Linked DNA regions of Homo sapiens: region 1 is linked to region 2. The links come from fine-mapping of genetic effects on plasma protein levels. Region 2 holds a variant in brackets. A gene starts in the other region. All regions are shown on their reverse strands.

Region 1 (5,321 bases), not on the chromosome of region 2:
CCTTATTCTCCTTATCACTATCAGCATTTTGGGCAAAGCCATTCAGCAAGTCTCTAGGAAGTTCCAAACTTTCCCACATTTTCCTGTCTTCTTCTGAGCCCTCCAAACTGTTCCAACTTCTGCCTGTTACCCAGTTCCAAATTCACTTCCACATTTTTGGTATCTTTTCAGCAACGCCCCACTCTCCTGGTACCAATTTACTGTATTAGTCCATTTTCATGCTGCTGATAAAGACATACATGAGACTGGGAAGAAAAAAGGGTTTAATTGGACTTACAGTTCCACATGGCTGGGGAGGCCTCACAATCATGGTGGGAGGTGAAAGGCCCTTCTTACATGGCAGGAGCAAGAGAAAAAATGAGGAGGAAGCAAAAATGGAAACTCCTGATAAACCCATCAGATCTCCTGGACTTATTCACTATCATGAGAATGGCATGGGAAAGACTGGCCCCCATGATTCAATTATCCCCCTGGGTCCCTCCCGCAACACTTGGGAAATCCGGGAGATAGAATTCAAGTTGAGATTTAAGTGGGGACACAGCCAAACCATATCACCTACCTCTACAAAAAATACAAGAATATTAGCTGGGTGTGGTGGCGGATGCTTGTATTCCTAGCTACTTGTGGGGCTGAGGTGGGAGGATCGCTTGAGCCCAGGAGGTTGAGGCTGCAGTGAGCTGAGATTGCGCCACTGTACTCCAGCCTGGGTGACACAGCAAGATCTTCTCTCAAAAAAAAAAAAAAAAAGAATACAGTTATGCCCATTCATTGAGTTATAGTCTATGTCTCCTTTTGCACTGCAATGGCAGAGTTTAGTTGTGACAAGAAGTCAATGGTATTTACTATCTGGCCCTTTACAGAAAATGTTTTTTGACCCTTGTTCTTGGCTCACAAATGCTGAGACAACATGTGAAAAGCACCATGATAGAAAATATTTCTAAGGTATAATTATCAACATTTTTTTTTTTTTTTTGAGACGGAGTCTCGCTCTGTCACCCAGGCTGAAATGCAGTGGTGTGATCATGGCTCACTGCAGCCTCCACCTCCCAGGCTCAGGTGATCCTCCCACCTCAGCCTCCTAAGTAGCTGGGACTACAGGTGCGCGCCACCACACCAGGCTAATTTTTGTATTTTTTTAGAGACAGGGTTTTGTCATGTTGCCCAGGTTGGTCTCCAACTCCTGGGCTCAAACAATCTGCCCGCCTCTGCCTCCCAAAGTGCTGGGATTACAGGCATGAGCCACCCTGCCAGTCAGTGTCAACTCTTTGAAACAAAATAACCTAAAGGCAGCTGTATCCACACACATAAATTTATAAAAAATCTATCTTGAGGGGTAAATGGCTTTTCTTTTGAAGCTGAAATTCCTACTCACACACCTCTGAGCATTGCCCCTGAGTCTGGGTCAGATTTGTGTTCCCAGAGCATCAAAGGTGTTTGTAAGCAAGTGCACATGTCATTTGGTAACAGACATCCAGCACAGTTGAGAAAAGCTTTATATATAAATTATATTTTATCAATCCTTGATAAGAATCTTCAGCAAAATGACCCATGACCATTTCATGACTGTTATTCAAAGAACTGAATGTGATGTGACTTAGAGAAGTACTAACACTCATTTCAAATTTACCCCTTGGCCTCAGACAGGATTCCAGCCAGAACTCAGCCATGTGTGGTGCCAAGTGGAGTTAAAAACTGCACAGTGTCTTCTTGTTCCAGCCTTTGAGGTTGCTAAGGTCAAGGGTGGGCATGGGAACATGCCAGTCATAAGATGATTCTCCATCAGCTCTACAACCCCCTTCTACACTCTGCTATGTGGTGCCAGGTCTCAGCAGACCTCATTTCTGCTTTTTCAGCTGGCTTCCAGAAGGTTATGCCCATAGGGTCTGTCAGGGGGACACCGGAAGGCAGGAGGAGGGAGAAGGGACTGGCTCCTGCCTGCTGGCTGTTTCTTTCAGCAGTGCCACAGCAATGACTCTTCATCACTCTGATAGAATCAGCTGGCTCCAGTCTCCAGCATTTTTTTTTTTTTTTTTGAGACAGAGTTTCACTCTGTTGCCCAGGCTGGAGTGCAGTGGTGTGCTTCGCTCACCACAACCTCCACCTCCTAGGTTCAAGAGATTCTCATGAACCTGGGATTACAGGAGTATGGCACCATGTCCAGCTAAGTTTTATATTTTTTAGTAGAGACAAGGTTTCACCATGTTGGCCAGGCTGGTCTCGAACTCCCGACCTCAAGTGACCCACCCACCTCAACCTCCCAAAGTGCTGGGATTACAGGTGTGAGCCACTGCACCTGGCTCCAGTCTTCAGCTTTTCCACACACTCTTAGAGCCACCTGCATATCCAAGCAACACCCCCTTCCCATGGGTCTGAGTCCCAGCTTTCCAGGACCTCTCCTCCAAATTTCTAGTTCTGAGAATCCCAACCTAATCCGTTTGTTCCCCTAGATCGAGGCATGATGCCTACTTCCTAAAGGCTTTATCTCTGTGTTACCTCGTTTTCCCTTTCTGCTTTTTTCAGTTATCCCTACTGGATTAGCCAATTCCTTATACTAAATTATCTCTGGTGAAATACCTAGTAAACCTTGTGTTTTCCAGACTGGACCCTTACTGATAAGGCAACATGTCACAGAATCATTTGACACACAGGCATAAGAAGCAGAAAAAAAAAAAAGTGGATCTGCTAATGCACTTTTTTTTTTTTTTGACAGAGTCTTACTCTGTCGCCCAGGCTGGAGTGCAGTGGCACCATCTCGGCTCACTGCAACCTCTGCCTCTTGGGTTTAAGCAATTCTCATGCCTCAGCCTCCCAGGTAGCTGGGACTACAGGTGCGCACCACCATGCACAGCTAATTTTTGTATTTTTAGTAGAGATGGGGTCTTGCCATGTTGGCCAGGCTGGTCTCAAACTCCTGGCCTCAAGTGATCTACTTGCCTCAGCCTCGCAAAGTGCTGGGATTACGGGCATGAACCACCGTGCCTGGCCAAATTTTTTTGACATGGTCTCATTTTGCCACTGAGGCTGGAGCGCAGTAGCTCAATCTCAGCTCAATGGCCACACCTGGCTAATTTTTGTACTTTTTTTAGAGACGGGGTTTTGCCCTGTTGCCCAGGCTCCTCTCAAACTCTTGAGCTCAAGTGATCCACCAGGCTCAGCCTCCCAAAGTGCTGGGATTAGAGGCGTGAGCCACCACGCCTGGCCTTAATGCACTAACTTGCTCAGCCTCTTTGGCAAAAATTATTTCTCACAGAAGTAATGAGTAGAACAGTAGTTACTAGAGGCTGGGAAGGATAGGGGGATAGGGAGAGGTTGGTTAAAGTATACAAAATTACAGCTAGGTAGAAAGGATAAGTGCTAGTGTTTCATAGCATTGTAGGGTGCCGACAATTAACAATAATATATTATAAAGGTCGAGCACGGTGGCTCAAGCCTGTAATCCCAGCACTTTGGGAGGCCAAGGTGGGCGGATTGCTTGAGCCCAGGAGTTTGAGAGTAGCCTGGGCAACATGGTGAGAACCCCTCTCTACAAAAAATGCAAAAATTAGCTTGGCATGGTGGCATATATCTGTGGTCCCAGCTACTTGGGAGGGAGGCTGAGGTGGGAGGATCACTGGAACCTGGGAGGTGGAGGTTGCAGTGAGCTGAGATCGTGCCACTGCACTCCAGCCTGGGTAAAAGAGCGAGACCCTGTCTGAAATTTAAATAATAATAATAATTTATTATGTATTTTCAAGTAGCTAGATGAGAGGATTTTGAATGTTCTCAACACAAAGTAATGATAAATGTTTGAGGTGATGAATATGCTAATTATCCTATTTTGATCACTACACATTGTATGTATCCAAATATCACTATGTACCCCCATAAATATGTACAATCATTATGTGTCAACTCAAATAGTTAAAAAATATATTAAAAGAGGGAAAGGCAGAACGCTTCCTGAGAGCAAGGACCTCCTTTGTCGAGGTCAGGGCTGTGTCTTCAGCAACGAAACACTATCTGGGACTTAGTACATGCTTAAGAAATAGGTGTTGATTGACAGAGCTCCCAAGAGCTCCACAAGGGTCCCCCTAGGACTGTCACAGGTTCTTGTATGTCGGAGGGAGAGGTCTTCCCCTTCGTCTCCTTGGGGGGAGGGGAAGGTGTTGGGGAACAACTGCCCCTTCCTCTATCTCCCTCGCCCCTCCTTCCCCATGGCCCCCTCCCCCGTCCTTCTACCTTTCTCCTTCCCAGCCCTTTCCGGTTCTCCCCCGACCCTTCACGGCTCCTCTTCCCGCCGCTCCTCTTCCCGCCGCCCCTCTTCCCTCGCCACCTACCGCTGCTTTTCCTCCCATTCTCGCCCCGCCCCTTCCCCCGCCCTCCCCGCGCCCCGTCGCACGAGCGCTCCCTGCGAGTGGCGCAGGTAACAGACCGCAGGGGCAAGACAGCCGGCGCGGGAGGAGGATGGCGCTGTCGGTGCTGCGCTTGGCGCTGCTGCTCCTGGCAGTTACCTTCGCAGGTAGCGCTCGGAGCGGTCCTGGCGAGCGGGGACCTCCGGAGAAAAGCGGGTTTGGGAGTCAGACCGGCGGCGGACCCTGCCCTGCTCCGGGCGGCCTCGGCGACGGTACCCGCGCGCCCGTTACTGGCGGTTCCCCAGAGGACCTGCCAGGTGGAGGAACGCGAACTGGGGGTTGTGGGGGTGGCTTTGTGGAGTCAGCCACCCTCTTTAGTTCTTGCTTGGGCTTCGCTCCCAGCTCTAAGGACACCTGCCATCTAGAGCGCTTTCTCTGTTAAAGTAGATTTTCAGGTGCCCAAGATGAGGAGTTGAGTTTTTATGTATGGTCCCAAGGGAGGAGATGTGCAGGAATGAGGAATTGTGGATGCTTACGAGAAAGGGGCTTTAGTCCAACCACACTGGACACCTCTCTTAAAATGGAGTTAAAATGCTCACATCTTATATTAAATTTTGTATTTGTTACCCCGAGTTGTAAAGGAAAATAACATCATGAACTATTAATTAAGGGTTACTTCCTTGGCCAGGTGTAGTGGCTTGGGCCGGTAGTCCCAGTTACTCCGGAGGTTGAGGCGGGAGGCTCGCTTGAGACCAGGAATTGAAGCTGCAGTGCGCTAGCGCGACTTTTATTCCATAGCTTCAAAGTCCTTTCTCAACCAACCCTAATGGGAACAGAACCAAATGTTATTTCTATGTGCTTTTGGGGAGAGGTGCCATAAAAAACTGAATATCCTTTCTGGGGGAAGTGGGATGGGGACAGTTTAAAGAAGGTAGGCATTAGAGGGGAAAATAGAAGATGTGGCCTGGATAAATCCCAAACTGGATTTTA
Region 2 (5,378 bases):
TTGGTAAACAGGGAGGTGACTGTAGAGAGAAAAAATGTTTCAGAACAGCTATAGCATAGCTGTTATTAGATTCTAGCCCTGTCCATTGTTTTAGAGTTTTTAAAAATTATCTGGACTGAATCCTGAAGTTTTAGTTTCCTCTAATATCTGCTATGGCTCTTCAGACTAACATTCCCAACTTTCTCCCACCTTTCTGACTTGAAATCACTAGGAATTAAAACCGTGCCTTTCCTGAAGCCCTGCAAATGAAAGCTGAACAACTTGATATAAACTTTGGAGAAGTCATCACAATTTATTTATGGACAAAAACTTCACTGGAACGTCTGATGCAAACTATAATCCAGAAAAATCTGTCAGATTGCCACTGCCTGTCCACTCCAACTTAAAATTATTTGAACCCAAATCTAGAAATCTCAGCTGGTTGCTCTCCAGAAACTAGCTTATAGACTGCTTGAAACATAGACCTTTGTTTTCTTTTTATTTCCATACAAATGTCTCTGATAAAGTACCTGTGTGCCTACACCATATGGAAGACGTAACTCTTATGGAAGCCCACTTACACCACCTCTGAAATGGGATGCAATGATTTAACGGAACTGACCTATTTTCAGGACTGAAAGACTGATACAATAAGAGATGGAACAATGTACCCAAATTGGTTCCTTTCTGCTTGTTCCAAACTATGTTCTCCTCCTCCTTTGCCAAATCTCTTATCTTAAAACTTCTAACCCAAATCTCTCCAAAACTACCAACTTAGCTTTTAACATGTGAAACTTTCTGAAAGTAAAGCTTCAAGGGGGGACTGAAGGAAACCAAAATATTTCTCCCCAAAATATTGAGAATTGTTAAGTTAGGAACACAGAACTCACAGGGAAGCACTCTGCTGAAGCCTGTCTCCTGAGATCAGGACATAAATCCTTCCTTCCTGGGAACAGCGAAGGCAGCAGTGGAATCTGGGAACAGATTTTACTACCTTCTCTCATTTTTGTCCCCTTTTAAAACACTGGAGCTGCTGTCTCCTTTGTCTTATCACTATGCTAAGATTTATTGATCTTTGTTTTCAGGAAAGTTTCTCAACTGAACTTGTGAGGGTTTAGAAAAGAAATTTTACCATTTAGCAAAATCAAAATTATGCTAATCTACTATTCTAGGGGGGGTTCTAGATCCAAACTACAAACTTTTCTGACAGCTCTATGTAACCTTCAGCTGCAAGGATTTTAGCACCAGCAGCTGCAGCCTGGTTCTTTGAGTTTTTCTGCTGGACTGGAAGTTAGTAGGTGCATAGGAGCTGAGCCATGTAATCAGTAGAAGCGATGAAGCTGAGAAAGGAGACTCCCTTGCCTGGCTGCTCAGAGAGAGGAAGAGTTTGGAGCTGAGGTCAACAGCAGACGTACGGATCCCCAGGGGTTCCATCTAAATCCTGTTCTCTTTATCCAGTTTTCCATTTGATTTTCACATTTGGAGTGTTAGTTAACCTATATCCCTTCTTTTTAGCAATGACCAAAATCAGAGGAGCTTCGAATATAAACAAAAGAAAACATTAAAAACAACTTCCTTGAAAGCCCTAAACCTTTTAAAGTACAGATAAAGGAAGAGGAGGCAGATGCTAACGGGAGAGCAGGATGATTACTCTTCACAGACACTCCTCTGTGTGGGAGGAGCAGCCCGGCACTTGGCCAGCGTTTGTCTCTTTAACAAGGTGAACACTTGGAGATCTGATTTCAGAGACACGTACAGCAGCCTCTCTGAAGGAACGTAACCGCAGGAGAAAGTGCTTTAAAAGCTATCAGGATGCATGTTTAATAACACACACACACATTCCATAACAAATTTTTAAAAGTTTTTATTTACCTAAAAACATAAATTTATCAAACATATCAATTTGCTTTGCAGAGCAATTTACATAAAAATTCATGATGTATACCAACGACAGCATAGCATTATCTACCTCAGTTTGTGAAGCATCCTTTCCTACAGATCTCAGCAAAACGCAGAGCCAGTAGGGGAAATTCAAGCTTTCATTTGGGGGCCTCTGGGGTCCTACCTGCTGGCAGTTCTTTCAGCAGAAAGTGGGGTACGGGGGATGCTGAAGAGGGGGAAGTGGACCCCATTGCCTGTTAAGTCCCATCTGTCTCAGTTTGAAGCAACACGGGAATTTCCATTGGAGGAGGGTTGGCCTGCCGGCCTGGCCCTTCTCTCACGTCCCCTCTACTTCAGCTACATTTCTTATGCATGTTCCTCAAAGCTGTGAAAATCAATACAAAAAAAAACTGACCTTTACTTCATTCCTGTAACAGGCTATCAGGATCTCAAGGAGATCCACCTGCATCGAGATCAGTCTCAAAAACGGGGCATGTAAAACATAACTTACAAAATGGTGTGTAAGGTCTGAGAGCCTTCACGCACCATTCAGACAGATGCAGCTGGCCACAGAGGACTTGGGGAGATACGTAATACAAATAAAGACCTTAACCAATCCCAACACTTTCAGAAAAACTTTCACCTGTGGGGAAGTGGGGGCATGTGACTGGAGAGCAATGAACGGAAGTTTACACTGGATCTGAATTGTTACTAAAAAAGTAACTGACACGCACACACAAGTGGCCTTCCTGGCGGAGCATCAACAAAGCCAAGAGGTGCGAGTACCCAAGACTCCCAGAGTTGTTCCACCCCTGGGGCTAGCTGTATTTATGCCCTCGCTCAAAGACCAGCTTTTTCAAACACTAATACCTACCTGCCCTTGGTGGTAACAATACTGTAAGGGCTGCTCATTTCACTGTAGGATTTTACATTTTTCTCACCATGGCACAGTCTCTTTTTAGTTCATACCCAATAGTCTAGCTGGGTTTTCTGTAGGGCGACTAACTCTCCTGTTTTCGCTCAGGACTCAGGGGCTTCCTAGGTTTCAGTTGTAAATGAGTCGGTCACTTGGTTCTCTATAGTGTTCCAGGAGATATTAATTACTGCTTGAGGTTTTCCTAAATATACAAAATCTCAAGAACAAGACATAAACCAAGAAATGCACCTGGGAGACACATACATTTTTTCCATATGACCCAGTGCTCTTTAACAAGTCCTCAAATCTTCAACAGCACTGTCCACTGAGTACAAACTAAATTCTAGTTTGCCAATTCCACTTTATCAAGACAAGGAATGAGGAAGCCGTTCCTTTTCAGAGTCCTGAGACAAGTGCTAGGATTCCTAACCCTGAGTATTTCATAGCTAGTTCATTCCCTAGGTCATACCCTGGATCACTCAGAATTTTAAAAAGTCAACATACACATAGATGTAAAGATAGGAAAGGAGGTAGTGGCCCCAGCCAAGAAGCATTTTCCAGAAAATTCAGCTCCACTGTTAAAGCAGCATAATATTTAAAAAAACAAAGAAGAAGAAGTCACAAAGCAATTGAAATGGAGCATCCGCTTGGAGAATTAAGA[AGAC/C]AGGGTGCTCCTGAGACAGACTTCCAAGACAGCTTCTTTGAAGTGCTGTGTGGGGTTAAATATTCTTCAGCAAAGAGGGTCACAGGTAAGGGCCCCGTGAAACAGCAGTTCTTAATATCATCTTTATCTTCCCTTAGGATAATATACCCCAAAATACTTTGCATCTATAAGATGTATACATCACTGCAGTTCACGAAACACAGTCTGCTGCCCAATACATATCCATGTTGCATGGCTAATGAAATGTCAAACCCTACTGGGTACATGGCAGTGGAGCTCCACAGCAAGGCCTCTGAGCAGAACGAGGTAAATCTTCACTGTTAGCTACAAAGAGCACTGCATGAAAGTGTGTGCAAGATGACTCCATGAGGTTTTCTTTTTAAGTTTATGTATATTTACAGAAAAGTGAAATGTGTTGGAAGAATAAACACCCCTTCTTGTGGACACTTTTAGAGAGGAGAATTTGGGCTGGGAAAAAAGGAGATCCTTTTTATTTTTTTGCTGTTCTCTACTGTTTGTCTTTTCTGTAGTTAATATTAATATTAATTGTATTAATATTCTGACTTTAATATTAGAAACTTTTTAAACATTAAAAAATAATGTTTCAGTGCTCACTGCTCACTAAGCTTGATAAAGGCTGAACTGTGTAATGTAGGGATACAGCAGGCACTTACTAGGTGCTTGTTGAATGAATTTAAAATATCCATTAGAAAAGCAGGAACACACATTTGAGAGCTACGCAATCTTCTGCTGATCCTGGGAGTAATAGTAAATATCCTGTAGTATGAGAAACGGCCTGGAGGTGACGCCCCAGTCTACTGCTGTACTTTCTCAAAACCACAAAAATGTAAGTGATAGGTATACTTAAGCAAGTGGAGGTCTTTGGGATTCTATAAATAGAAGCATTTGGAAAAAGCCAAGTAATTTTAAGGCCCTGTCAAACTATAATTGGCACGAGGAAGCATAGAACAGATGAAATAAGCAGAAACAGCCCACTGAGTGTGCAGTTCCGTAGTCAGCTCCATCCTGCTTCCAGTGGTGGGTCCTGGCAGTGCTCTCCAGCCTGGGAGTCCCCGGCTCCTCCTCCTTTAGTGTCGCCATGGCTGATCGCTGGACAGCCAAACAAACAGAGGAGCGTGGCACAGAGGAAGGGAACAGATAGTTAAGTACTTGGACAGAAGGGCAACAGTTCAAGTATTAAGATTTATGTTCCTTAATTTCTTCTTCTTTATGCGAAGAATTTTAGCATCTCTAAAGAATGAGGGTCAAAAAGATGCAGAAACAAGAAAACTTAACCATTACTTAGACATTACTAGATTGTAGGACAGACAAAAATGTCCCATCCAAGAGTAGCGCTCATGTTTTTTGACTCAAGAAAATAGGAAGTTTACTAACTGGCTTCCAGGAAAGGCCAAGGAGAGAAAGCCAATGGGAAGGAGGGCGGGGCAGAGGGACCCACACCAGGAAACCGCTGGCAGGTGGGGGATGGGCCTCCCCAAGGCTACAGGCACGGCTTCAGTCAAAGATTCATTTCCTTCACTCAGCAAGTGTCTTCCACAAGAACTGCAGCTCCTACATACATTAATACATTTCTTTTACGTGTGAGGCTTCTTCAATTTACATCTTACTTCCCTGAGAAATGGCACAGACATACCTACAAGCAGTCATCACTCTAGTCAGTGTCAATACTGAAAGGCAAGTTTTCTCTGTCTTCCAGCAAGACCTAATCTACAACAAATTAAAGAGCGCATTTCAGTAAATGTAAACACATCACTTGGTCAATTTTCACAGTGATCATCAATGATGGCAGTCTACAGAACACAAGAAATGCAAAGCCACCCTTCCTTTTGAAATAAGCTCATCTGCCAATCAGATGTCACTGATTTTCCATGCTTGTCTCGCCGCAATTCTCCTCAACCGCTGAACTGAAATCTCCAC

Direction of the effects. Alleles are on the strand shown, and positions count from the first base shown. The strength of an association depends on the size of the effect and on how common the allele is.
For the plasma level of the protein whose gene starts at base 4,405 in region 1, C is the low allele of the variant in region 2 and AGAC is the other (weak association).

The links. PIP is the posterior inclusion probability: the model's chance that the variant is causal. The UK Biobank Pharma Proteomics Project read protein levels with antibody pairs (Olink). The fine-mapping took linkage between variants from a reference panel, not from the people measured, so its PIPs are less certain.
Region 1: it holds the start of SPINK2, and the variant in region 2 is fine-mapped to the plasma level of the SPINK2 protein (UK Biobank, PIP 0.99).

What each region holds. Positions count from the first base shown.
Region 1 is chr4:56,820,785-56,826,105 of GRCh38, reverse strand. It overlaps SPINK2 (serine peptidase inhibitor Kazal type 2), which reads left to right and starts at 4,405. Exons shown (of 4, transcript NM_001271718.2): 1 at 4,405-4,648. The coding sequence starts at 4,444. RefSeq lists a silencer at 4,304-4,563.
Region 2 is chr6:407,889-413,266 of GRCh38, reverse strand. It overlaps IRF4 (interferon regulatory factor 4), which reads right to left. Exons shown (of 9, transcript NM_002460.4): 9 at 1,824-5,378. Among named protein-coding and RNA genes, the nearest start is that of IRF4, 19 kb to the right of the region's middle. RefSeq lists enhancers at 320-559, 640-699, 880-1,059, 1,430-1,579, 2,480-2,629 and 2 more. The variant AGAC/C (reference allele first, on the strand shown) is at 3,438.